6 separate regions of the Homo sapiens genome follow, and all the other regions are reported to be linked to region 1. The links are microRNA targets in miRTarBase. Many come from high-throughput screens and were not tested one by one. Region 1 holds a microRNA gene; each other region holds the end of a gene's coding sequence.

The links. The annotated mature microRNA hsa-miR-4736 reads AGGCAGGUUAUCUGGGCUG and lies in region 1 at 2,691-2,709, shown strand. An mRNA with a match to its seed (bases 2 to 7 or 8) in the 3' UTR can be bound and repressed. Matches are read on the target gene's strand: a 7mer-m8 pairs with bases 2 to 8, a 7mer-A1 pairs with bases 2 to 7 and ends in A, and an 8mer does both.
Region 2: miRTarBase lists MATN3 as a target of hsa-miR-4736. Seed matches in the 3' UTR shown: 7mer-m8 at 2,229-2,235.
Region 3: the mRNA of STOML3 is a reported target of hsa-miR-4736. Seed matches in the 3' UTR shown: 8mer at 2,961-2,968.
Region 4: miRTarBase lists WNT7B as a target of hsa-miR-4736. Seed matches in the 3' UTR shown: 7mer-A1 at 2,354-2,360.
Region 5: the mRNA of CD84 is a reported target of hsa-miR-4736. Seed matches in the 3' UTR shown: 7mer-A1 at 1,263-1,269.
Region 6: miRTarBase lists EIF3L as a target of hsa-miR-4736. Seed matches in the 3' UTR shown: 7mer-A1 at 1,068-1,074.

Annotation. Positions count from the first base shown.
Region 1 is chr17:58,333,597-58,338,712 of GRCh38, reverse strand. MIR4736 (microRNA 4736) reads left to right here and starts at 2,691; the gene lies at 2,691-2,737. TSPOAP1-AS1 (TSPOAP1, SUPT4H1 and RNF43 antisense RNA 1) reads right to left here. Exons shown (of 5, transcript NR_038410.1): 3 at 1,034-1,265. RefSeq lists a silencer at 131-425 and enhancers at 1,096-1,165, 2,366-2,575, 2,204-2,745, 2,766-2,945, 2,966-3,015 and 6 more.
Region 2 is chr2:19,989,426-19,994,541 of GRCh38, reverse strand. MATN3 (matrilin 3) reads left to right here. Exons shown (of 8, transcript NM_002381.5): 7 at 133-243; 8 at 1,376-2,490. The coding sequence ends at 1,431. It overlaps WDR35-DT (WDR35 divergent transcript), which reads right to left and starts at 4,338. Exons shown (of 3, transcript NR_110235.1): 1 at 4,048-4,338. It overlaps WDR35 (WD repeat domain 35), which reads left to right and starts at 4,437. Exons shown (of 27, transcript NM_020779.4): 1 at 4,437-4,550. The coding sequence starts at 4,527. RefSeq lists a silencer at 4,217-4,296 and enhancers at 4,457-4,506, 4,137-4,640, 4,657-4,706.
Region 3 is chr13:38,963,019-38,968,134 of GRCh38, forward strand. STOML3 (stomatin like 3) reads right to left here. Exons shown (of 7, transcript NM_145286.3): 7 at 2,907-4,031. The coding sequence ends at 3,807. Among named protein-coding and RNA genes, the nearest start is that of STOML3, 25 kb to the right of the region's middle. RefSeq lists an enhancer at 1,697-1,866.
Region 4 is chr22:45,920,312-45,923,311 of GRCh38, forward strand. It overlaps WNT7B (Wnt family member 7B), which reads right to left. Exons shown (of 4, transcript NM_058238.3): 4 at 55-3,000. The coding sequence ends at 2,545. Among named protein-coding and RNA genes, the nearest start is that of WNT7B, 55 kb to the right of the region's middle.
Region 5 is chr1:160,544,425-160,549,540 of GRCh38, forward strand. It overlaps CD84 (CD84 molecule), which reads right to left. Exons shown (of 7, transcript NM_003874.4): 7 at 1-3,897. The coding sequence ends at 3,832. The region is part of intron 1 of CD84-AS1 (CD84 antisense RNA 1); the gene reads left to right. Among named protein-coding and RNA genes, the nearest start is that of CD84-AS1, 9.9 kb to the left of the region's middle. RefSeq lists an enhancer at 3,847-4,116 and a silencer at 5,014-5,063.
Region 6 is chr22:37,888,081-37,891,080 of GRCh38, forward strand. EIF3L (eukaryotic translation initiation factor 3 subunit L) reads left to right here. Exons shown (of 13, transcript NM_016091.4): 13 at 346-1,327. The coding sequence ends at 384. Among named protein-coding and RNA genes, the nearest start is that of MICALL1, 17 kb to the right of the region's middle.

The sequences.
Region 1 (5,116 bases):
CAATATTATTCCCCTTTCACAGATGAGAAAACTGAGTTTCCATTACATCTCTCGCCCACAGTCAGTGGCCTGGTGAAGCTGCACTGGTGCTTCAGCCTTTCCCCTTGCACAACGCTGCTGTCCCTATGGCCTCCCTTCAGTTCTCCATGGCAGATGGGGATCCAGGGCCCATAACTGGGGCAGGGGCATGGGGGTCCTCCAGGTTTCCCTTTTTCTTCCTTGAACCCCATCCAGCCTGCAGGTGGGGCTCTGGGGTTGCAGGTCCACTGACCTTAGTAACAAAGGCTCCTTGGGGGTGAGGGCTTCCATGCCTCCTGTGTTCACCCACCCTGGGACCCCTCGAAGAGGTGCCGGGACCCCTGACACCCACCCCCATTTTGTCCCAGGCTTCTCACCTCCCCCTCCCCAGAGCCGCAGCCCCATGACGCAGCCAGCCGCTGTTGCCCCATTGGCCCGCCCTAGTGCATTTGCCCTTATTTGGCCAGGCCAGCTCCAGGCTGGGTCTCCACCCCCGGCCCAGCCCCCGCAGGCCTGTCTCTCTCACTTCGTCTTTTTGAGGTTTGGCTCTGGGGCTCTGGGGCTCTGGGGCCCTGGCGGGCGTCACTTCAAACGCACTTTCTGGTTGAGTCACTTTTTAACGGCTCCAGTGCTGTGAGCTGCTGCTGCTGCTGGGTCCCTGGCCTTGGGGGCCAACCCTCCCCCATTTGACTGCTTAATAGGCTCTGAAGGAAAGGGCTGGGGAGGCCATCTGCTGCTGGAGAGACTCTGCGGGCCACCTGGCCACCCAGTTAGGCCCCTCTGCCCCCCAACCCACAAGCCTGGGCCAGAGGGTCCGCCCTGGGTCGCTCCCACTGCTTTTTCCAACGGGGTTGTGAGGGGAGAACAGGTCTTCACAGAAGACCTGTTCTTTGGGGACTTTGAATTGAGCTCCCTCTGGGGAACAGAAACGGGGTGCCCGATTTTCAGGAAGGTGAAACTTAACCTCGCTGAGTTTCCGGTTCCTCATCTCTGAGATGGGGATACCATCACTTACCTCACTGGGTCAGCATGACGATCAAGCGAGATTCAGATTGAGTGTGTTTCATCAAGTTCTCTAGCTGCCTGGGCTGCCTCCCTTCCCTCGGCCCCGAGTGCAGAACGTGGAGGTGAACGGGATGAATCCAAGCTGGTTCGCAGGGCAGTCCTCACTGAGCAGTCTCTTTCCAACTCTCACCACCTTTTCCAGCTGGTCCTGGGATGTGAGGAATCCTGTTGGGGGCAGGAGGCTGGCAGGAGGAAATAGATAGCTCTTTGCCCCTTGTTTCCAGACAAGATAAGGGGAGAATTCTACTAGAGCCATTCCTAGCCACCCTGCCTTCTCTGCATTTTGGGAGGTGTGCCCTCGAGCCAGCTGAGAAGATACCATGGCTGCCTGGGGGCTGGGCAGGATTTGGAACACAGATACTGCTGCTTCCTCCTGCGAGGTCTCTGGGCTCCTGTGCTCTTGGGGACTTCCTAGAGCACAAACAAGTCTTTTGGTCAACTCCCTCCCCATTTTTATAGGTGAAGAAACAGGCTGGGGTTTAGGGGCAGATTCAGTGACTGGCCCAGAATTGTACCATAAATAATCACAGGGTGAGGATTAGACCCCTAGTTTCTTGACACTTAATTTTATCCTCTGCTTGGTGATCCTGATGTTGGGATAGGGAGTGGGGCTGATGAGGGATTGTAGTGGGTTCCAGGCAGAAAACCAGCTCTTGGACCCCCTCCCTGTCCCCGCCACACATACACACACAATTTATTTGCAGCAGTTGGAACTGGAGCAGGTGCAGCTATGCAAGTTAAACCCAGCACCTGTGTGTGGAGAGAGTCCAGAGGGAGCTTTCATCTCTCCACTTGTGTCCCCAGAAGATCCCAGAGGAGAAAGCTTCTGGTTTCACGGCCACTCCCACAGCAGTGGTCAGGGTAGCCTTCCTCACACCCACACCCCCTTTCCACCCAGCCCGTCCTGCCTTTTCCCAGATGTTGTGGAAAGAACCCAACTTGGCCCTAACTTGTTTTGTGACCTCAGGCTGCCTTCTGCCTCTCTCTGGGCTTGCAGCTCTGTTTCCTGACTCGGGACCAGTTGCTGCCTAACCTTGCTGCTTAAAAGTCCTTGGGTCTTATGATCCCAGGAGATCTGAGCCAGAACCCTGCCCCAGTGCGAAGTGACCTCCTAGTGTGGGCCACTGTGCATTGGAGCTGCCCCTTGCCAGACAGAGTAGAGCAGGAGAGTATGAAATTAAACCTAGGGGAGTCTGGTACGAGCAGGCAGGGGCTGAGGGGCAGCCAGTTTGCCCGCCCTCCTTGCCTGGAGGCCCTTTAGCACTCCTTGTGCTCCCAAGGCTCTGAGATGAGACAGATCTTCTGAGGTGCTGAGATGATCTCTGTAGGGGACATGGGCTGTCTTAGGTTCTTAAGGCACTTGCCTCTCTTGGCACCTGCTTCCCTTGGCTGCCCCTCCAGGGAGATGGGGAAGGGTCTCAACATTTGGGACTATTGACTCCAATTTGCTTTAGCCCCATTTTGCAATGCTAGGGGCTCAGTTTCCCTCCTTTGTGGCCAGGCCTGTCCCCAACTGTAGCTTACTGGAGGGCGGGTCTGCTCTGCCTTCTGGACTTCCTGTTTGTGAGTGGTTAAGTCTGTGGCTTCTCTCTTGTTGGCTCTTTGTAAGGCAGGTTATCTGGGCTGCCATCTCCCACTGGCTGCTTGCCTGCCTGTGAGTGAGGGCCCCAGGCCCATGCAGATGGCAGGGAAGGGTTGGTTTTCTTTTCTGCCTTCATGTGCGGACAATGAGCTTGTGTCATTTCTTCCACCCTCTGGGCCTGCTCTCCTTACAGGCATTAGGCCTTCAAAAGACAATTTTCTCCCTGTTTCTCCTCCTTGCCCAATCTCTCCTTCTAAACCCTCTTCCACCTGTACTCACATTCTCCAGGAAGCCTTCTCTGATGGGACTCCTGTGACTCTAAGGTTGCTACTACAGCATCCAACATCCCAGCCCCTTGGGCCCTGGCAACTGCCACCTGGGATGGCCTTGTGCCTGTTGCCGTTACTATGTTAAATGTAGATGTGTGTGTCTACTTCACCCTCAGATTCAGTGCTCACTAGAAGTAGGAACCAAGTGTCCCCATCAGACCTGAAGCTCTGCCCCTGCTTTGGGTACAAGACACTCACTTGCACTGACACACACACTCGTACACACTGCCTATCAGGCTGGGAGTGCCCAAGGACAGGTCCTGTGTCCTTTTCTCTGCCGGCTCACCTTTGCCTACCCACAGCCTCAGCTTGGCACACAGAGATGGTTGTCCCCCAGGTCGGTAAGGTGGGGGTGGCAGTGAGGGACCATGAGCCTGGAGCCCTCCAGGATTCCAAGCCCAGATCCCTCTATCCTGATGAAGGGCTGTTCCCACCTTGTTCCTGCCGCCCCCGCCCCCTACTTCCTCTGAGCAAGAATCTGAATGTCAGAACCAGGGAGGGCCGTGGGGGACTTTTGACAGCAAGTCCAAGTGAGCCAAGGTTGCCCAGTGACAGCCTGCTTGAACCTGGATCGGCCGCCAAGGAGGCGGAGTTTGAAGTATCAACTTGAACTCCTCTCTCCACAAAGACATCAAGGGTTTGGTTTTTCTCATCCTGGGGAACTCAGGCAACAGGTGGCTTTGGAGGCAGGAGTGGGAGCCAGGCCACTCTCACAGAGGTACTTATGTTCTGAATCCACCCCCAGCTCCTTCCAGTCACCCTGTCAAGCACTGGCCCCAGATTCCCAGGTGACCCTCCCTGTGTCTCTTGGGGAGGACGCAGGTGTGTCCAGGAGTGTAGATAGGCCTCCTCTAGGTGTGTGTACAGGACTGCGGGGTGTGTCGGCGACAGCGTGTCTGTGTCTGAATGTTTTGGGCTCTCTGGGCCGCTGTGTCTGCATGTGTGTTTCCATGCAGGCACTGGCTGCTCTTCCCTCAGGCACCTGCTGGTCAGTCACACAGGCCACGCATCTGGGTGGTGGCAGCCTACGTCAGGCTTCGAGTCCAGCAGCCTTGTTCCAGTCACAGGTGGACGGCCCATTCCATGTATCCTAGCCATTCTCACAAAGTTTCTTATTGTCTCTGTATTCTTATTTTAGACTCTGCCCCTTCCCCTGTCCTTGATTTTGTCTCTGGCCCTGTACCATTTCTTCTGGTTTGAGGCCCAGCAGAGTCGGGAGTCATCGCTGGGCTGGGGAAAGTCCAGGTCCTCATTCCATCCTTCTTTAGCCCCAGCCTCGGGATGGGAACCAGCAGAGGGCCTAGACTATCCAGAAACCCCCTGACCCCAGAAGCTCCGTTGACAGAGAAGCTGGGCCCTAAGCTCTCTTCTCAAAAAAAGAAAATAGATAAATAAAAATAAAAACTATTGGTGGTCTTTAGGCATTGAGGTTGTACAGAGAAAATCAGCCTCTGTTGTCACAAGACAACAGGCAGCAGGGACACCTCACCCTGCTCAGGACAGGAGAAGGGCTAGATTGGAGACTGTTGGAGCCATGTGTGTCCCTTGGAACCTCAGCTCTGACTCGCCACAGGTCACATGCTGAGGGGTCTATGGCATAGCTGGGCCCAGAAGCCGGGCTCCTGGGTCCCATTCTGTGACTCTCTTTTGTGGGGACAGGACGCCTCTGAAGTGAGGGCTATGGAGGCATCATAAGCAGGAGTAGGAGGTAAGATGCTCTCAGGGGAGGAGCCCTGAAGAATGGGGGTCCAGGAACCCAGGTTACTGCACAACTTTGATATTCTTATCCTCTTATCGCCTGGGGCAGCCACTTCCCCTCCACCCAGGTCAGAGGCAGCGGTGGTCTCTTAAAGGAGTATCGCCCCATTTCTGGCCAGCTGGCCCTGCAAGGCAACCCTCCTCACCACTTTCTCTTTAGACTCAAGGGGGTGAAAGGCCCCATTCCCCCTTTCTCTGTCCCATTTTAGGGACCTGGGAATGGGGCAACTTTCCAGGTTGAAGGACCCCCTTCCTGGAGGGAAGGATGTGGGGCCATCTCCCTCCCCACTGCCCCCATGCCAGTCCTCTTCTAGGCCCTGAATCTGACAGCTCCCTAAGGTCTGTGTGGGCCTAAACGGAGGAC
Region 2 (5,116 bases), not on the chromosome of region 1:
CCTTTACCTCTTGGAAAATGCACTTAGGTAAGTCTTAACGGTGGAAATATTCAACTGTGGATTTCCTGATTTGTTATGATTCCTATATAGCTATTCCTAGATAGTATATTTGTGTACTGTCATTGTCTTCAGCCACTGAGGAAGCACGAAGACTTGTTTCCACTGAAGATGCTTGTGGATGTGAAGCTACACTGGCATTCCAGGACAAGGTCAGCTCGTATCTTCAAAGACTGAACACTAAACATATCCTTTCTGGAAGGTTTTCTCCTTCTGCCTGGAGCCAACCAAGGTACTACGATCGAGCCAAACACTTTAAGACATTCCACAGGCAAGTGACTTATTTGTTAGGTTTTAATATGAGCAGTGGTAATATACAACTTTAAAAAATTTAGAGTTCTTTTCTAATGGTTTAATAGACTGTTTCACCCATTCAATATTTACATGTAAAAGCTGCCTATTTTGTCCCCTAGTGCTTTTCCATAACTGTATATGCTCCTAATGATGCTCTTACATAACAGATGGAACATTTATGCTAATGACTCCTTAATATGGCTTTCTTAGTTCAGAATCTGAACATGTACAAAGCAAGTCAGCTGATTAATGGGGTGTGATATCTCAGATTACACACAGTTGTACCCTTTGACTAGCCAAGTGGTCAAAAAGCAGATTTTAAAATGTAACATGATACAATCTCAGAAACTTTCAAAATCAGTTCTTTCTTCAAAGGAGTAACTAGGGAAAAGTTTCTCAGAACAGTTCAAGTTAACAACTCTGTTCCTATGTACCCCAGAGGAGTGGAATTTAGATTGTGGTAGGTACAATCTAGGCGTATGTAGAGACTTTTAAGGGAGGTACAGATAATTGGAAAGAATCAATTTCCAAATCCTTCACTTGCTTAAGACACTACTTGGAATCAGCTGGCATTTTCTTTTCCCGTCTCTCATTTCCATATCACCATTCTCCTAACTTCACACAAGAAAGGCATACTTCTCATTTACCCTAGATCTACTAAGGTGCATTTGTTAGAACAGCAGAATCTTGAGATAGCCAAACAAAGGGACAATCCAACTATCCCTTTAATCAATACTTCATAAACACTGCTTCCCCCATCCCTCACACTAAGATGCTACTCCAATTACATTTTATATGAACAAAAACATCTGAAGACCACTGCAGGGGTCTACTTTTATTGTGCTCTCTGAAGAACAGGATTTTTGACTTTTAGACTGAATTCAACTTTTGGTGAGAAAACAGTTTTGCTCTTTTTTTTCACTTCTCATAGGACATAATTATTTTATCTTGTGAAGTGTTTGAAAGTGTGTTTATATTTTCTAATGTGTAAAAATAAATGGTGTTGGCCTTAACAACTTGCCACTTGATGACATTTTGGAGAAGTTGAAAATAAATGAATATGGACAAATACATCGTTAAATTGCTCCAATTTCTCACCTGAAAATGTGGACAGCTTGGTGTACTTAATACTCATGCATTCTTTTGCACACCTGTTATTGCCAATGTTCCTGCTAATAATTTGCCATTATCTGTATTAATGCTTGAATATTACTGGATAAATTGTATGAAGATCTTCTGCAGAATCAGCATGATTCTTCCAAGGAAATACATATGCAGATACTTATTAAGAGCAAACTTTAGTGTCTCTAAGTTATGACTGTGAAATGATTGGTAGGAAATAGAATGAAAAGTTTAGTGTTTCTTTATCTACTAATTGAGCCATTTAATTTTTAAATGTTTATATTAGATAACCATATTCACAATGGAAACTTTAGGTCTAGTTTCTTTTGATAGTATTTATAATATAAATCAATCTTATTACTGAGAGTGCAAATTGTACAAGGTATTTACACATACAACTTCATATAACTGAGATGAATGTAATTTTGAACTGTTTAACACTTTTTGTTTTTTGCTTATTTTGTTGGAGTATTATTGAAGATGTGATCAATAGATTGTAATACACATATCTAAAAATAGTTAACACAGATCAAGTGAACATTACATTGCCATTTTTAATTCATTCTGGTCTTTGAAAGAAATGTACTACTAAAGAGCACTAGTTGTGAATTTAGGGTGTTAAACTTTTTACCAAGTACAAAAATCCCAAATTCACTTTATTATTTTGCTTCAGGATCCAAGTGACAAAGTTATATATTTATAAAATTGCTATAAATCGACAAAATCTAATGTTGTCTTTTTAATGTTAGTGATCCACCTGCCTCAGCCTCCCAAAGTGCTGGGATTACAGGCTTGAAAGTCTAACTTTTTTTTACTTATATATTTGATACATATAATTCTTTTGGCTTTGAAACTTGCAACTTTGAGAACAAAACAGTCCTTTAAATTTTGCACTGCTCAATTCTGTTTTTCGTTTGCATTGTCTTTAATATAATAAAAGTTATTACCTTTACATATTATCATGTCTATTTTTGATGACTCATCAATTTTGTCTATTAAAGATATTTCTTTAAATTATACTGAATTAACAGTTATTTTGATATTCAACAGTTTCTTATCAAAAGACAGAAGTTTGATTCTCCTCCTATAGTTTAATCTCACACTCCTGAGGCTAAAAGTGTAAGTTCAGGTTCAAAAGAAAGGCTTCAATATAAAATTATCTAAATTTGGATAAAATAATGATGAGCTTTACATTAATATAAGCTCCTGAGAAGCAAATATATCCTACAGATGTAAATATAAAATATAAACTTTAAGGAAGGAACAAAAACTAAATATACCAAGGAAATATATAAAGCATCTCTTACTTTTCAAAAATTTTGAAAGGGTATGACATAGAGCTACAGTAGTATTTTCCAGACTTTTTTGAGCCCAAAATCAGTAATACATATTAATATACCACAGAGAAATGGTGGTATAGAAGGAATAAATGAGAGTTCATGTGCAAGAAGGGAAAGATAAAGAGAGGTGAGTTTTCAGGTGTCACCATCAGTAACTAGCTTCAACTAATTATGTCTTGACCAGTTTATTGGAAACTCCTGGGTTAGATAATACTAATTTGTCTCATGCGTCCAGTATAGGGAGCCTATGGACAGGGGCCAATGTATCTTAAACAGACACACAAACAATGGAAAGCAAACATTATCTGAATGGGATTGGGTTAAGTTTGGAAAGAATTCCTCATGGAGACTGATTTGTGCTGGTTTGGCTAGGCACAACTGGCCTGTTAAGAGGGTAGGACCATATATAAAGTGGCTTGGGAAGCAGAGCCGGATGGAATGTTGCCCTGCAGAAAGCATATTGGCTTACTTGAGGTGGGGGCTCCCTAGTAAAAACATTTAGGATTGAGGGAAGATCTGATTTTGGATGGAGTTTAGATTTGCTAGGAAAGGCACTAGGGACTATTGTCAATTCTATAATAGATTGTGCTGGGTGAGACAAATCACCCAGGTCAAAGGATTGGAGGATTTTTATTTTATTTTTGTCTGAGATGGGAAAAGACTCCAAGTGGGGAAATTAACTACTGATGCATAAATTACATGCTAGATTATGGTAAAAGGGAAAACCAGAAATAAAAACATAGGTGAGACCAAATAATTTCATGAGTGGTTCTACTTGGATTTCTGCCCTATGCCTTAGACTTTGAGGCTTTGTAACTCTCAAGCATTCCAAAAGGACAAAGGAGAATGAAGAAAGAAGGTAAGAAAAAGAAGAGAATATGTAACAGTCGACTCTAGACGAGAAAACACCAAACGCTCAAATATTTGTAAAATGGGAGGCCATGCCCCAATAGCAATTGTACGCTGTAATTACCCAACGTTTACAGAAATTCCTTTAAAAGGACCCTCGGGGTTGCGGTAATAATTAAACTGTTAAAAAATATCAAAACAAGCGGAATAAACAAAATCTTCTATTCCTAAATTGCTCTAGAGGTTCTCCAATCCCCAAAGACACAGAGAAGGGTTGTAAGATCTCAGTACGCACATTTGCACTTTCATCTGGCCAGTGGCGCCAGCCTATCAAATACAGTAAATGGCTTTTCCCTTTCAAGAATGTTGGAACTTTGGAACTTACAAAATACTAAATAATTTGCCCTTATTCGAACGGGCGCCTCTCCTCTTAGGTTTATAGTAATGCCACCTGAGGCGCGGCTCCATAGCGATCATCACAGGTGTGGCGGGAGGGAGGGCGGCAGTGACCACGAGACGGGGCGCAGAGGGCGAGCGCACGGCTGGCAGTGACAGGTCGCGACCCAGCTCCTTGCGGAGAGCAGAAAGGCCCAGACGCCAGGGAACAGGACTAGCCCAGCTACCGCCTCGCGCCTCGCGCCCTGCGCCCACAAACCCATCGACGTCCGCGCAGGCGCACTACGCCGGTGCCCGGTGCGAGGGCGTCACCGGAAGTGTCCCGCGGCGCCCCGGATGCGACCGGGCAACAGCGGTTGCCAGGGCGACGGGAGCTTTCCGGAGCTGCTGGTACTCCCGATTGGAGACGTAGAACCGTTACTTGTCGAGGGCCTTAGCGGCCGCCGTGACCCTCTCGGGGATCCCACGATGTTCTTCTACCTGAGCAAGAAAGTGAGTTTCCTGGGGGGCGTCCTCGTTTCTCCGCCATTCCCGCAGCCTGCGGCGATTCCCGCTGCCTTCCCGAGAAGCCAGGCTCCTTCACCCGGTCCTGGTCGTGGCTTCGCCATTCCGCAGCCATCCTTCCCGCCGGGTCCAGCCTCCGACCTCTTCCTGCGGTTCCCAGAGCCTCAGTCTTTGGCCGAGCTTGCTGCCCTCTCGCAGCACTCTCCCATTCCTGCCCCTGGCTAGGTCCTTTTGGGTGGCTTGAGGATAAGTCGCCACGTGCTACCCTATGTTTCCTCCTCCACTTGTTGCTGATCCACGTGATTTAAACTCTTTGGATCACCACGAGCCATTGGGCAAGAGAAAAGAAATAACAATAGGATAGCCTAAGTTGTAGGTAAAAAGGAAGAGGGACTGGTGGTATGGATTTATACCCTCTCCCCGTCCTCCCTTTAAAAAATCCATCCGGTGAGACTCTGGCGTTGGCTTCCTCCGCAGTCACTATCCTTCTCTTTTGTGCACTTCTTTCCCTCTTTCCCAAATGCTAGAGCCCGGGTCAGTTCAGGGGACCATGC
Region 3 (5,116 bases), not on the chromosome of region 1:
TCCAAGAGGTTTTTAAAAGGGACCACTGTGAAAGGGAATTGGGAGTGAGGGGAAGAAAGAGATCAGCAGATGGAGCCCCATGCCCTCCTTCACTACTGCAGCCAGAGGAGCTCCCTTTTTGTCAATTGTATATACATTCATGTATCACTTTATGATCAGGTTACAATCTGAAAAATACATCATTAGGCAATCTGTTCTGCAAACATCACAGAATGTACTTACATAAACCTAGATGGTATTGCCTGTTACACTCCCAAGCTATATGGCATAGCCTATTGCTCCTAGGTACAAACCTGTACAGCATGTTACTATGTGTGACTGTAACACAATAGTATTTGTGTATCTAAACATAGAAAAGGTACAGTAAAATTACAGTATTATAATCTTATGGGACTACTATTGTTTCTGTGGTTTTTCATTGACCAAAAGTGTATTATATGACATATAACTATTGGGTTTCACTTTAAATTTTTATTTAAAGAATATTTCGAGGTTTTAAAAATAATGGCTAGAAACCACTGGATTAGATGACCTTCAAAGTCTTCTCCAGGTTTCATTTCCCCCAGTCCAGACTCCTTTGCAGCATCTCCCCCATTCCTCAATCTCTCAGTGCCTTTCCATTGTCCTCTGGCAGCTCAGAAGCTCTTGGAATGAACATTTACCACAACTAGCATTCCACCTGCAAGCATCTGCTATGGTCTGAATGTCTGTGTCACCCCCAAAATTTATACGTTGAAATCCTAACCCCCAATGTGATGATATTAGGAAGTGAGGCCTTTGGAAGGTGATTAGGTCATGAGGTGAGAGCTGTCCTGATTGAGATTAGTGCCTTTATAACATAGAGGCAGAGAGATCCCTCACCCCTTCCACCAACTGAGGACACAGGGAGAGGGCCCAGTCTATGAATTGGTCTCTCACCAGACACCAAATAGGCTTGCACCTTTATTCTTGGACTTCCCAGCCCCCAGAACTATGAGAAATAAATTTCAATTGACAGTTTATAAGCTACCCAATTTATGGTATTTTGTTACTACAGCCTGAACTCACTGAAATAGCACCACCAGTATCACTGGTATTACCTCCAGGCCCAGCAACAAAGGGGCGATGTCTGTGATGACTGGGGACTTCGAACCCTGCTTCAGCACTATGGTCATGCCAATCCTTTCCTGTTGTTAAAACAGGAAAACCACCTGATTGGGATTATCTGCACTGGCTTCAATATCGGTGGTGATGACCGTGAGCCCTGGAGCTGCATTACAAGGAGAATGGACACTTCTCTCTACAAGAGAGGTTGTCTTCTCTTTCCCCCTTCTGGCCTCACCCTGCCTTCCAACTTCCCCCACCACCCCAGAAAACAAACAGACAAAAAAAAAAAAAAAACACAAACAAGCAAAAAAAAAAAAAAAACCTTTAGTCTTATTCTAGAGGTGCATATGACTGTGTTTTGAATATCAGCCTTGGCATTCACATTCCAGAAGAACTCTGACCCTTTCTTGATTCTTCTCCAGACCCTTGGCCACAAAATATACTCACCTTCATAGGAGCCTTCTTTAGTCAGCCTTTAGTAACTAAGGCAGTAAGTGATTTATTATAATGCTAAAGAATTAATGAAGCTTTGTACTGGAGGAGGTGGAATAATTTGAATTTCCCAGGAAGTTTTCAAACTGCATTTCCCACAGCCTCAAATATTCTGATACAGCTCTCATACCCCCATTGCCAATCCACAGGGATGCAAGCAGGTTGTACATTTTAAAAAAGAGGTTCTAAATGAGTGAGACAATGTTTACCTCCAGCAAGAACCACTAGTTTACAGTTTGATGTACATTGCCAGGAAAGATTTGCATTTTTAATGCAAATCACTGAAACCAAAAAAAAGGAATAACTCTAGACTTCTGGAACAAGGCTAAAAAGAGATTTTTGCAGTGGGCCACCAAGATGTCCTTGTATAAGCAGAGCCTCCTTCTCGCATGGCTCTCAGTGTCGGAGGTGCCCTGGCCTGGGTTGAACCTGTGTCATTGTTGTGAAGATGTAAGGGCTATCAGTTAAGTGTCTAAATAGCATAACTTCATGGACTCAGATTCTGGCTGATGTGGGTGACCTATCTTAGGTTTCTGCCTATGTCCCTAAGTCCTCAATCCCTGTTAAAAGGCAAGTTCTTAGTAAATAATGAAAATGTATGAGCCTTAGTGGGTTAAACATGAGTGCTGGAGTCATCAAGTCAGTAGGATCAAGCACTAGATTCAGAAGCTGTGGATTGTCCAAAAATCATACGGTTTCTTGGGGTTGGGGGAGGGTTATGAAACAAAGATAGAGCGTGATCCCCATTTTGCACTATGTAGCTGATGCCTATGTGTCGAAAGGATGTGTGTGATAAGGACAGGGAGGGGATGGGAGCAGAGGTGGAGGATGTGAGGGTGGGGAGGTTATATGGAGGGTATGTGTGGAGTGTGAAAAGGAGCATGAAGCACGTGGGAATGGTGTGCTCACACATACACATATGTGTGCATGCACATGTAGTCCTGGACACTACAGTAGGTGCCTGGACTTCCAGAACCTAAAAGTTTGGTGTTGACAGCAAAAAGGAACTAGAGTGCTCTCTCTCCTTGGCTCACACTTCCTCAAAATAAAACTTGATGATGTTTAGGAGCAAGGACTTTGGACTGAGACATGGTTTTCTATCTTAATCCAACACTCACTAGCTGGGGAATCTTGGCCACATTATTTAGCCTCATAATATCACTTCCTTATCTGTAAAATAAAGATATTTTGTGGCATCCCTAAAGGGCTAAGCACAGTGTAACACAAAGACGATCCATAAATAATAACTTTTAAAAATTCTAGCCCATTTCTCAAAACTGATTCCAAAAAGAAATTGCACCATGGCAACGAAATAACCTCCCAAAAAGTAACTTTTGAAATTCATTTATATTCTATGCCTTCTTTGTTTTGAACAGGTTATTTGGCAGGTGGGGGAGGGGATGTGGATAGAGTTCACAAACATTCTCGATTACCTGTGGCTCCTGGGACTAAGAACAGAGTGAAAACATGAAATCCCCAGGGTGATGCTCCTCAGTGGTTTCAACCAATGCAACCTTTCCAAGCATTCTCCCTTGTAAGCAAATAAATTGACAGGAGCTGGCCACTTTCATGTGCCTTTTCCCACCCTCTGATAATGGTGCTGGAAGGTGGAGAGTTGGCCACTCCCTGCAGGACACACAGCAAGAGACCTGGACTGTGAGCTCATCGCAGTTTGCCTTGTGGCACGGGGGACATGTTTGAGCCTGGAAGTTTCCATACTTCTTTTGTTCTTAACATCAAAATCAATCTCTGTTTTCAGCATTGTGGGGTTTGATTGCAACCATTGGAGATTTAGCAAATAACAACTTCGGAATTATAAAGCGAACATATAGTGTAAATATGAGGCCTATGTTACTCTATAAATTATCTGGAGTGCTTTTTAAAACAATTAAAAAGTAATTCTGAAACATTAGTCATAGTCACCCAATGATTTCTTCTCATACTACCAGAAAGTTCCTGCTATAAAGTCGGAGACCACCACTAATTAATTATATAAGAATATTACAAAGTTGATTATGGTCCTAAAAATAAAAGTAATATACAGGTCTCATTTTTGCTCTTTTTTTCTTCTCTGTATAGCCTCTAGAGCTTTTTCCTGCCAATGCTCTTCCATCTATGGAGTTACTGTTACATGAACAGTGTTGGAATTCTCACCGTTTCTAACTACTGGCTTCTCCATAGGAATAGACACCACTCTCTATGCAATAGCTGACTACCGCAAGAGGACCTCAGGCTTTATTTGGAAGCTTCTTGTGGTTATCATAGCTGACGCCACCAATGCCCTCTAGTATATTCATGGGCAGAGGAAACACAATCGTAGAATTCTTCTCGGTGGCTACCGTGCTCAAGGTCTGCAGGTAGCGCAGCTGGAGAGCTATGGGAGACTCAGCCAGCACCATGGAGGCTGACTTCAGGGATTTGGAAGCATTCATTTCTCCTTCAGCTGCAAGGACCTGAAATGACAGAAATAAAATCGTTCAGAAATAAAAGTTTACACTATAACTAGTTCTTTCTTTTTCTGGGTCTGTATTGATACCCCTCTCCCCAGCCCCCATGTTGCCACATGTGTTTCATCTACTTCTTTGGCGAGGATAAGTTTCACTTCCTAACATAATTAGAGAAATTCAAGGAGGTTGCAGGAAGCAAGGAGGGATATTGTACAAATCGTAGGTCCCTAGATTTTATCATCAAACAAAAATAAAAGTACTCTCTTGAATACAAATGAATACTTGGCATCTACCCTAATAATGCCTGGAAGCACTTTGGAGCCTCACTACTTGCTGCATTCATTTCCAGAGAAGTCTGAAATTTAAGGCCTCTAACTGATGTTTTTATCATTTTTAGTTATCTTAGATGTTTTTAAGTTCATTCTGTTGCCACTTTGGTGTCATTCTTACAAACCGAGAATTGTTTCTAGTTCTCTTGGCTCTTGATTACAAGCAGCAATAAGTGCCAGCCTTGTAACACTGGCAATCTCTTAAGTACATCACTCTTTATAGCTCTCAGACTGTCCAGGAGTGATTCAGCTGCCTCATCTGTGGCCATCTGCCTGTGTGCAAAAGTGATCTCTCTTCTATCATTGCCGAGTCCCTTCCTGGAAGCTGCTGGAGCTTAGCAGATAAACCAGATTTGAGTCAAAGAAACACCTTCATCAGCTAACAAGTAAGTTTCCAAAGAGGATACACAAAGGCTTGGGATCCCAGTAGATTTCTGATACTTCAGGAAAGTTATCCACACAGGCATGAAAGTCAGAATCTCAACAGATTTCAAGGACATTCAGAGCCAGGGTGCACTTACATTTTGTAATTCTTACCTGGATTGTATTTAATTGCCCCCTTTTATTCCAGCAACGTTTAATATACAAGAACAACAATGCGCAAAAGACAGGTTCCATGTTGGCTACATCTAAGTCACCAGCTTTATGAAAATAGAGGTTTCTTAGCCCACTCAAGACTGCTTCAAGCCTGGGTTTGAAGTAAGGCTTGGAAATTGGTATTTTGTTTTGTTTTGTTAAATTCTCCCCAGGGAACACTGATAT
Region 4 (3,000 bases), not on the chromosome of region 1:
ACCGGTGGGGCCGCAGCTGCAGGTACATCGCATGGGGATTCCACACACACTCACTTTTCCGATTCCAGCTTTTATTGGGCCGAGCACTCCCCTCCAGGGGAGGCTGCCGTCAGAAGGGTGGGGACGCAGCACCTTGGTCGCCATCACCCCCATCTGGGCCACCCTGACCCCCGTCTCACCCAGGCAAAGGGCCTGTTGCTGGCAGACTTTGGGGTGGGCAGGGGCTCAGTGGGGTGCCCGGCAGCCAAGGGACAGTGCGAGTGTCTCGGTGGCATCAGGGGCCCCAAGGGTCTGTTGAAGCAGGAGGAGCCTGGTTCGGGAGATGGGGGATGGGATGGGGGGTGGGTATGGGGAATAGGGATGAGGGATGGGATGGGGGATGGGGTCAGGGATGGGATGGGGGATGGGATGAGGGATGAGATGAGGGATGGGATGGGATGGGGGATGAGGGATGGGGGCCGCAGCCATCCCCCTCTCCGGTACCCAGTGTAGGTCACAATAATTTAAAGACACTATAGACATTTCGACGCTATATAACAACATAAGTTAACCAGGTTCCTTGCAGAGGCTGCCGGGCCTATGGACTCAGGTGTGTTCTGGGACTTGGGGAAGGTAAGGGGATGGGGCCAGGCTGAGGGTGGGGCATTCACGGTGGCCCGGAGACTCAGAGCGTCCAGGCATGGTTAGAGGCACATGGGCTGGACCACAGGGCCAGAGCCCAGGAGGGACCCACTTGCCCCAGGCTGAGCCCAGGCCCTTGGCTTGTCGGCTGCTCAAGAACACATTCCTACGGGCTTCCAAGAGAACACACCCTAAATGGGGGCCAGGCCGTGGGCAGTGGGGGTGCACCAGGAGCCAGCTGCAGACCATCCTCTCTGGCCTCGGACAAGTTCCTCCCTCTGTCACTCATGCTCCTCAGAGACAGGGGTGGGAGCATCCAGAAAGGACATGTCCAGCTCTGGATCCAGATTTTCTCAGCACTGGGGTCAGGGTAAAAGGACCAGGACAGGGCTAGGCGAAGCCTCAAAGGCACCGAGGGGAGTGCAGGCCCCAATGAGGCTGTCAGGGGGTGGAGGGAGCAGCCAAGTGCCTCAAGGCATGGGAGCTACCTACTGCCACCCCGGGCATCCTGATGTGTTCTCCCAGGTCCAGAGCCCCAGGCTGGGCAGGAGAAAGGTGGAAGCCTCCAGTCACAGCTGCAGGGTCTCTGGTAGGTCCTTGTGCCACTCTGGGCCTCAGAGTTCCCATCTGTCAAGTGGGACAAACATCCCTGACCACTCACCACCTGCCTGACCCCCGCGGCAGCACTGTCCCAGGGGTCAGGCTGGCTCCAGGGGGAAGGGGGTCTCTGTAAACTGGAGGTGCCAGGCCGGGAGGGTGACAGGATGAGGGAGGGAACGAAGGACTCCTGGAACCTGACGTGGGTGATATTTTGATTTGCTTGATATTATTTTCTTTTCTTTTTTTGAGACAGAGTCGTGCTCTGTCACCCAAGTTGGAATACAGTGGCACAATCTTGGCTCATTGCAACCTCCACCTCCCGGGTTCAAGCAAGTGTCCTGTCTCAGCCTCCTGAGTAGCTGGGATTACAGGTGCACGCCACCACGCCCAGCTAATTTTTGTATTTTTAGTAGAGACAGGGTTTCACCACGTTGGCCAGGCTGGTCTCGAACTCCTGACCTCAGGTGATCCACCTGCCTCGGTCTCCCAAAGTGCTGGGATTACAGGTGTGAGCCACCGCGCCCAGCCATTGATAGGATTTTCAAAAGAAGGAAAGACGGCATGGAGGAGCCTGTCCATGGCTCTCCTCCAAGGCCCGGTCAGGGCTGTGTGGTCTGAAGAGCCCCTGCCCAGCTCACTTCTAGGACCTGCAGGCACCGCGTGGTCCCCATCAACCCCAGGCTGCCTCAGCTCTGCAGGGGCAGAGGGCCGGCCAGGTGGGGCCGGGAAAGGAAACAGAGGGTGTCTAGGGGATGGGCTGACACAGAGTACGGAGTTAGGACTGGCTATGTGTTAGTGCCGAGAATCCTCTTCTGATACTAAGAAAACATAAATAATTTGTGTCAACATCTGTCCCCACCGCCCCAGGGCCCAGCGGCAGACCCAGCCTGGGAACTGGTCTGGAGAGGCCAGCCGGCGTAGCTTTTCTGTGTCCATGCCGCCAGGTGGGGCTGGGGACGCTCAGTCTCCTCATCACTTTGCTCTCTGGGATACAGGTGTGTCCTGGACGTTCATTTTCCCAGAGAGAAGAAAGAGAACTTGCCGGGCCCCGTCGGGGAGCACCAAGACCCCTGGCCTTGCTCTCTGGGTGGGTCACGGGTGCTGTTCTGCCGCAGGAGGTGATGGGAGGAGGTGGCAGGAAGGAGCCCCAGGGAGGCGGGCAGAGGGCGTGGGCCCCGGCCGGTGCCCTCCTGCACCTGGAGCTCCCCGCTTCTGCACCCGTCTATGTCTGCTGCTGGCAGCACCAAGGCAGGGAAGGTGAGGAGTGGATGTGCAAAATGCCGCCGGGTTCCAGGGTGCCCGCGGCCGCCTCCGGGCCTGGCCTCACTTGCAGGTGAAGACCTCGGTGCGCTCGCTGCAGGTGTTGCACTTGACGAAGCAGCACCAGTGGAATTTGCAGTTGCACTGCCACACCTTGGTGTACTGGTGGGTGTTGTAGCCTCGGCCGCAGCACATGGTGTCACAGCCGTCCGCGCCGGGCGACGTGCGGTTGCAGAGACGGCCCTGCGTGCCCACGCTGCCCGTGGCCGCGTCCTCCTCGCAGTAGTTGGGCGACTTCTCAATGTACACCAGGTCTGTCTCCATGGGCTTCTGATAGCTGCGCAGCTGTTTGATGCGCAGGAAGGTGGGCTGCCGCAGACGGCTGGCCCGCACCACCTCCACCTGCACGGCCGCGTTGTACTTCTCCTTCAGCAGGTGGCCCACCTCTCGGAACTTGGGCAGCGTGGTCCAGCAGGTTTTGGTGGTGCAGGAGCCAGACACGCCGTGGCACTTGCACTC
Region 5 (5,116 bases), not on the chromosome of region 1:
ATGAGCCACTGCGCCTGGCCTTCAAGCTTCATTTTACAATCAGTAGACACTGTCACTAATTATTGAGAAAATTTATACAAATCAAGGGAAATTCAGAGAAAAGTCAAACAGAAGAAAAATAATGAGTCTGGAAGAAAATATAGCCCAGCCATTCCTTCTCTCCAGGCAGGACCTAAGAAGTGCTCTCTGTGGACACGGCCCAAACCAGACAGGCCCCTTCCTGCCTGTGCCCGATTTCCAAGCTGGCCCAACCAGGCTATTCCCTCATAGCCTGTGTAGTTTACAGTGTTCTACAGATTTTTTAAATCATATTTTAAACAAGCTTCACTTTCTTCTTCTAAGAATCATGAGCTGCAACATTCCTCATTTTCTCAGTTGAGTCCCTCAGTAAAGCCCAAGGTGTCTGCAGGCAGGACTGTCCTAACCTACTAGAACTTTCCACCAGAGGGCTCTGTCTCTGAGACTTCCATTTTGATGCACATTTTTAAAAACTGGCACACTTTGGTCTGATACAAGATCCTGTTCCATGATGCTTTGATTTTATAGACCTCTTGGTCACAGTCTAGTTCATCTGGAAAGTTGTGGAGGGGAAAATAAGATCACATGCATTTTACAGAAGGAAAATCTAAGAACTAAGACCTAGAGAGAAGGGTGAACAGATAACGTGTTCATGAATCAGGAGATTCATAGCAGAGAAACTGAGAGGAGAGACAAGAGTAGGGTGTCCTGAGTCCAAAGGCTACCTTCAGAATTCCTGGGCTCTGGCTTCATCCCAGGTTTGCTCTTCTGGAAGACCTAACAGATCTAACCTGCTTCTGATTTTTATTTTTGACAATATGCATAGGGGCATTAGGACACTAGTAATTTTACTTGAGTGAGCATATTAGGAAGAGGAAGAGGGCAAGTTAGAGAATAAAGATGTTTGGGAATGAGTCTTCAACGCATCCACAGAGTGAGGAGTGGTTTTATTTTAGGATAAACGCAGCCTGTTCAGTGTCACTTTGGAATTCCTCCATCCTTTATGACCAAGCCTCTTTCCTCCTTCCTGCACGTCTCTTCTTGGGGTGCTGTCTTTCACCTCCTTACAACTGGTTAGGTGCTTCAGCTGACCTCTTAGTTGGTCTGCCTAACTCTGAAAGTCTTCTCCCTCCAAAGTGCCTTTACACTAGGAACAGCCTCTGATGTATGCATCCTGATATTATTTTATTTTATTTTTATTTTTTGAGACATGGTCTCACTCTGTTGCCCAGCCTGGAGTGCAGTGGCAGGATCTCAGCTCACTGCAACCTCCACCTCCCAGGTTCAAGCAATTCTCCCACCTCAGCCTCCCAAGTAGCTGGGATTACAGGTGTGCACCACCACGCCCAGCTAATTTTTTTGTATTTTAAGTACAGATGGGGTTTTGCCATGCTGGCCAGGATCCTCTCAAATTCCTGACCTCAAGTGATCCGCCCACCTTGGCCTCCCAAAGTGCTGGGATTACAGGCGTGAGCCACCGTGCCCAGCTGCATCCTGATATTTAATGCTTGCCAGAATTTGATTGCACCATGCTTATTGGCTTCTATCTTTTTTTTTTTTTCGAGATGGAGTCTCACTCTGTCTCTCCCAGGCTGGAGTGCAGTGGTGTGATCTCAGCTCACTGCAACCTCCACTTCCTGGGTTCAAGCGATTCTCCTGTCTCAGCCTCCAGAGTAGCTGGGACTACAGATGTGTGCCACCACACCTGGCTAATTTCGTATTTTTAGTAGAGATGGGGTTTCACCATGTTGGCCAGACTAATCTCGAACTCCTGACCTCAGGTGATCCGCCTGCCTTGGCCTCCCAAAGTGTTGGGATTACAGGCGTGAGCCACCACCCCAGCCGGCTTCCGTTTATCTGTAATTCCCACATGTACAATGTAGTGAGGAAAACAAATAATTAGTTATGCTGTAAGGCTGAATGAGATGAGTTTTAGTGATAGAAGGACCAAAGAGGAAAAAACAGCAGTGTGAAAAGATCCCTGATTAATTTTGATTCCTGATACCAGGGAAAGCTTTACAGAAGAGGTACCTTTTGAGGTGGGCATTGAAGGACATGTAAATGGACATGGGGTGAGGGCACACATCTGGCTGGGACACTCTGCCACACATAGGCAAGGGACTGTGAGCATGCATGGTGCATCTGGAGAGGTGCTCTGAATACACCCCACTGATCCAGGCCCCTGCTCATTTTTCATGCTTCTCTCACTTGGAGGCCCTCTGTCTTCCTCATTCTCTATCCAAATTTCATCCATCCTTCAAGGCCCAGCTTCAGCCCTGCCCCCTCATAAGGTATTTTTCTGACTGTTCATGCTATTACTTGCAGCTGCAGTTCAGCGTTAACTGTAGTGTCTGTGCTGGAATTGTCTCCTGAGCTACACAAGAGCAGACATTATGCACATCTTCTACTTTGGGGCCTTGCAGCTCCTAACATAGTGCTAATGGTAGTTGGTGCTAGATGAGTCTATGGATTCATTTACTGGGACTGATGTCTTTATCTGCCTAATTGCAGCCCATTGCTGTCCAGCCTAGGACTATTCATTGGGATTTAGGAGTTAGCCGATTATACTTGCTAACACATAAGGGAAACACTTCCTTAAATGATCATATGAATGTCTTGCTCAGTTGTGAATGATTCTTCCTCATTGAGGAGAGTTAATGCCTGTGTAAGCTGGCTGGTGATCTGTTTGTGGGGCATGCCAGGGTGGCGGCACTCTGCCTCAGCTTAAACTCTAGTTCTCTGAGTCTTTGGAACTGGGATGAACCCAGTTTCATCATCTGCACCATCATCTCCCAAGTTCCTTCTGGAGAATGACTCTGCTTCTTGCAAGGTCTTCTATTTTGATGGTTGGATTATACCCAGTTCCCCAGAAGTGTGAGAAATATAAGCTGGTCAGTTCCTTTTGGAGAGTGGGAATACTGGGCATGGCTGCTTCTTCTGCTGAGGCTGCTTGGAGTGATACAGAAGGAAATCTTGGCCAGAAAGAAAATCCTATAAGGCTTCTGAAGTAGCACTCCAAGAAAAGTGTCCCAGCAGTCTCTAGACCCTGCAGAAAGAACATTTTCCAACACTCCATTTGGAGAGTGTGTCTACATGGCTGAGAGCCACAACTCTGACAGAGACCCACACAGCACTGTCATCTGTGTTTGGACTTACTAAGCCTGTTATGCCCTGCACAAAGATTCCCAGACAAAGGGATGAGTGTGCTTATATGCAGCCCACATTCTGCTCTCCAAGCCATGCACTCGGGGGAAGGGCTGCATCTGCCTCAAGCGAAGGGTACATTTTCCTAATTTGCTCAAGATGCGTGGTGAAGGCCACGCACCAGGGATCTTCACACATACTGACTGTGAGCAGAGCATCTTGGCTGGTGTGCCATGGCCTATTACAGGTGTGCAAAATATTGATCCCCTTCTCCCACAGTTACTGGGCAGGGTTGTTACCTCCAGTCACAAGAGGCCTCTAGTCATATGCAGCTTCCAGAAGTGAGCAATCTTGCTTGTTTATCCCAGTGTGCCATAAAAATATTATTTTCTACATGTGCTATGATGGGAAGAAGTTTGGGAAAACTATACTAGGTAACCTGCTTTGTCATTCATTCAGAAGGGAGTCATTTCAGGAAGGGTATGCATCCATTTGTCCATTTAGGCACAAGCTATGCCCAGCAGAAGGTTTCCTGCTTTGCTTACAGGCTGAGATGTGGCAGTTTGCAATCTCCCAGTAAGAGTTGGGCAGAGAAGATCTGGATCCAGGGAACCTGCCAGTATTGGTGGTTGTAACTCAGTTTCCAGAGGGAGAATTCAGCCCAGCAGCCTAGATCACAATTTCATAGCTTGAAGTCCCAGGAGGTTTACTGTCCTGTGTGCTGGCTTTCCCCATCTGTGCAGGAGAGAAGCGTGAGAAAATGTTAACTGAGAGGTGCTGCTGGGGAACTCCAGTCCTGCAAGTTCCCAGAGGAGTTAAGCAAATGGCACGGGGGAATGCCTTAGATTTGCCTCATGCTGGGGAAATCTGGGGTAGCAGGGCCTTGTTCTTTGCTGAGTCCCTCATGTCTGCTCCAGCTACCCCCCATTTGGGAGGCCCTGAGCAATTAACTTCTTAGCCCAGAAAAGAGCAATGGGAGGGAATGGGGGCGGGGGCATATTTGGAATGGATTTTGATTATAGACTTGAGGCAACATTCAGGTTCAAGCTACCTGCATTCCTTGTTCCTAGTTGACCCCTAGTTTTTTTGTATCCCAATAACTCCACTTTCACCTATACATAGTGGGGACTCACTGCCAGCATCTCCTGTGCTCTAGGCATTTAGAGGGCTGCAAACAATCTTCCCATTGGTTTGAGGAGTCTTAGGTTTTCAATTAAATACTGACCCAATAATTGTTATCTAACTTGTCTTTAAGGATTTATCTTGAGATGTCACAATCCAGGATTCCATGATTAATCCCTCGAATTTTATCTCCTTCTAAGTTAAGTTACTCTTGTTCCTCCAACTCTCCTTGAGATCCTGGCACAAATATGCTGGGCACCCTGACCCTCACTTCTTGCCTGTCCTCCTTTTCTTCTCCTCTTCTTTCCTCATTCCTCCCCTTCTTTTTCTTTCCCTCCTTCCCTCTCCTGATCACTAAGAAAGTAAATGTCCCTCTATCTGGTTGTCCAGTCCATTTGGCTTATCTTTTCAAGCAAACTGCCCTGTGCTTCAAGTCCTCCTTAAAAGGAAGTAGCACTGCCCTGCTTGTCGAGCTCATAGATGTCCTCCCTATTGCCTTATAGGATCACTCTCAATTCGTACTCAGTTTAGCTTCCTGCTTGGTAACTCAGCTATTAAACAGGAATACTTAGAAAACATGATTCTTTAAGCAACCCTAAAGCTGTCCTGATTGTAGCAGCAGTGAGGACCTTCAGATAGTGACAATCCCTCCTTAGATCCCCAAAATTTAAAGTCCTGTCAGAGGGCTTTGCATATGACAGAGAAGGACATAAGGCACAGGCATAAGGCACAAGGCACTTGGCACTACAAATGGTTGTGCAGGCTGCGTGTGGTAAAAGAGCAGCTGAGGGAGCAAATGAACTGAAATTCAGCTTCTGCTCCATTGCACCCA
Region 6 (3,000 bases), not on the chromosome of region 1:
TGTCTTCTAACAAGGATCCTGTTCAAAGCTTCTCATTCTTCCCCTAACTGAACTAGTAACCTTGAAACGTCTGGCCAGTCTGAATCCTTTTTCTGTCAGATGGATAGAGCAGTGTTGTGTATGGGTTTGTTGAGTGTGAAGGGCAGATAAAAGAATAATCCGCGTGAACTGTGCAGGGCCATATGAATGTCACGGCTTTGCACACACATAGTGGACACCCACATCAGAAACTTCCTTTCTTGGCTTCAGAGGGGCAGCTGGGAATCTGACCTAGTGATCATACACACTGTAGGAAAGGGGTTGGGGAAATCCCCGTATGTAACTTTGCTTTTCTTTCTCTTCTAGCTTAATCGAACCCTGAAGAAGATGGGACAGAGACCTTGATGATATTCACACACATTCAGGAACCTGTTTTGATGTATTATAGGCAGGAAGTGTTTTTGCTACCGTGAAACCTTTACCTAGATCAGCCATCAGCCTGTCAACTCAGTTAACAAGTTAAGGACCGAAGTGTTTCAAGTGGATCTCAGTAAAGGATCTTTGGAGCCAGATTTGTCGTCTCATTATTGTAGGAGAGAATTTGTGGGTTGTGGCAGTAATACATTTCCCATGTGTCCTGATGCTTTCAGGATACATCAGTTGTTAGTGTTTAAATTGAGTTATTTTTATTTTGTGCTTTTGAGATGGAGTCTCACTCTGTCTCCCAGGCTGGAGTGCAGTAGCGTGATCTCAGTTCGTTGCATCCTCCGCTGCCCAGGTTCAAGCAGTTCTGCCTCAGCCTTCCAAGTAGCTGGGATTACAGGCGTGTGCCACCACACTCAGCTAATTTTTGTATTCTCAGTAGAGATGGGTTTTACCATGTTGGCCAGGCTGGTCTCGAACTCCTGGCCTCAAGTGATTCGCCTGCCTTGGCCTCCCAAAATGTGCTAGGATTACAGGCATGAGCCACCACGCCCCGCCTAAATTCAAAATCTTTTTGTTTTTTTTTAGACGGAGTCTCACTCTGTCGCCCAGGTTGGAGTGTACTGGCGCGATCTCGGCTCACTGCAAGCTCCACCTCCCAGGTTCCTGCCATTCTCCTGCCTCAGCCTCCCAAGTAGCTGGGACTACAGGCACCCGCCACCATGCCCGGCCAATTTTTTGTATTTTTTAGTAGAGATGGGGTTTCACCGTGTTAGCCAGGATGGTCTCAGATTTCCTGACCTCGTGATCTGCCCATCTCTGCCTCCTAAAGTACTGGGATTACAGGCGTGAGCCACCGTGCCCAGCCCTAAATTGAATTCTTAAATCCCTCTTGTTCATAAAGCAGTATATTTGGTTTACAGGACATTTTCACGTTCAGTATTTTGTTTGTGCGTCACAAGATCCTATGAACTTTAAATGACCTATAATTTTCATGACATATTTGTGGCAGTGCTGGGTCCTGGAAGGAAACTATTGAACACCTCCTACTGCCAGGAACTGTGCAAAGAGGGATCCATATACATTACTTACACCTTACAACTCAGGTTTAGTAGTAGTTCCTCATCTTATTGATGAGGAAATGAACCCACAGTAGTTAGTGACTTGATCAAGGTCACATTAGGCAGCTGCTGGAGCTGAGCTAAATGGTTTCCTGCCTACCCACAGTATTAATGCTATGCCTGTCACCCTATAGTGGGTACTTGGACTGGAAGCCCCTGCTTGCAAGTTGTCTCACATCTCTGCCTGGTTCCTTGTATATAAAATAAGGTTAGCAGGCCAGGCGCGGTGGCTCACGCCTGTAATCCCAGCACTGGGAGGCCGAGGCGGGCGGATCACAAGGTCAAGGAGATCGAGACCATCCTGGCTAACATGGCGAAACCCTGTCTCTATTAAAAATACAAAAAAATTAGCCGGGCGTGGTGGCGGGCGCCTGTAGTCCCAGCTACTCGGGAGGCTGAGGCAGGAGAATGGCGTGAACCCGGGAGGCGGAGCTTGCAGTGAGCCAAGAGATCGTGCCGCTGGACCCCAGCCTGGGTTACAGAGCGAGACTCCGTCTAAAAAAAATAAAAAATAAGTGTAGCAGAACCTGGCTCACTGGGCAGTGGTGACGAATAAATGAGAATGCTATTTTGAGTGCCCAGTGCAGTGCCTGGCCTATAATGGATGTTCAGTTACTGTTTCCCCACACTTGGAATTCGTAAGCTTTTCAGTATGCTCTTTTTCCCCATTGGTTTGATAATTATTATTGGGAACTGAATGGTGGTTCCCAAGAAGACATGTCCATATCCTAAGCCCTGGATGCCATCAGCATGACCTTATTTGTTTGGCTGGCATGCAGTGGCACGATCTCTGTTCACTGCAACGTCTGCCTCCCAGGTTCAAGCTATTCTACCTCAGCCTCCCAAGTAGTTGCATGCCACCATGCCTGGCTAATTTTTTGTATTTTTATTTTTGTTTATTTTTTTGAGACAGAGTTTTGATCTTATTGCCCAGGCTGGAGTGCAATGGCGCGATCTCGGCTCACTGCAACCTCCGCCTCCGGGGTTCAAGCGGTTCTCCTGCCTCAGCCTCCCAAGTAGCTGGGACTACAGGTGCACGCCACCACGCCTGGCTAATGTTTGTAGTTTTAATAGAGACGAGGTTTCGCGATGTTGGCCAGGCTAGTCTCGAACTCCTGACCTCAGGTGATCTGCCTGCCTCAGCCTCCCAAAGTGCTGGGATTATAGGCGTGAGCCACTGCGCCTGGCTTTTTGTATTTTCAGTAGAGACTGGGTTTCACCATGTTGGTCAGGTGGGTCTCAAACTCCTGACCTCAGATGATCACCCATCTCGGCCTCCCAAAGTGCTGGGATTACAGGCATGAGCCACAGTGCCCGGCCTTCTTTGTTTTGTTTTTGTTTTTGTTTTTGAGATGGAATCTCGCTCTGTCGCCCAGGCTGGAGTGCAGTGGTGCAATCTCAGCTCACTGCAACCTCCACCTTCTGGGTTCAAGAGATTCTCCTGCCTCAGCCTCCTGAGTAGCTGGGACTACAGGCA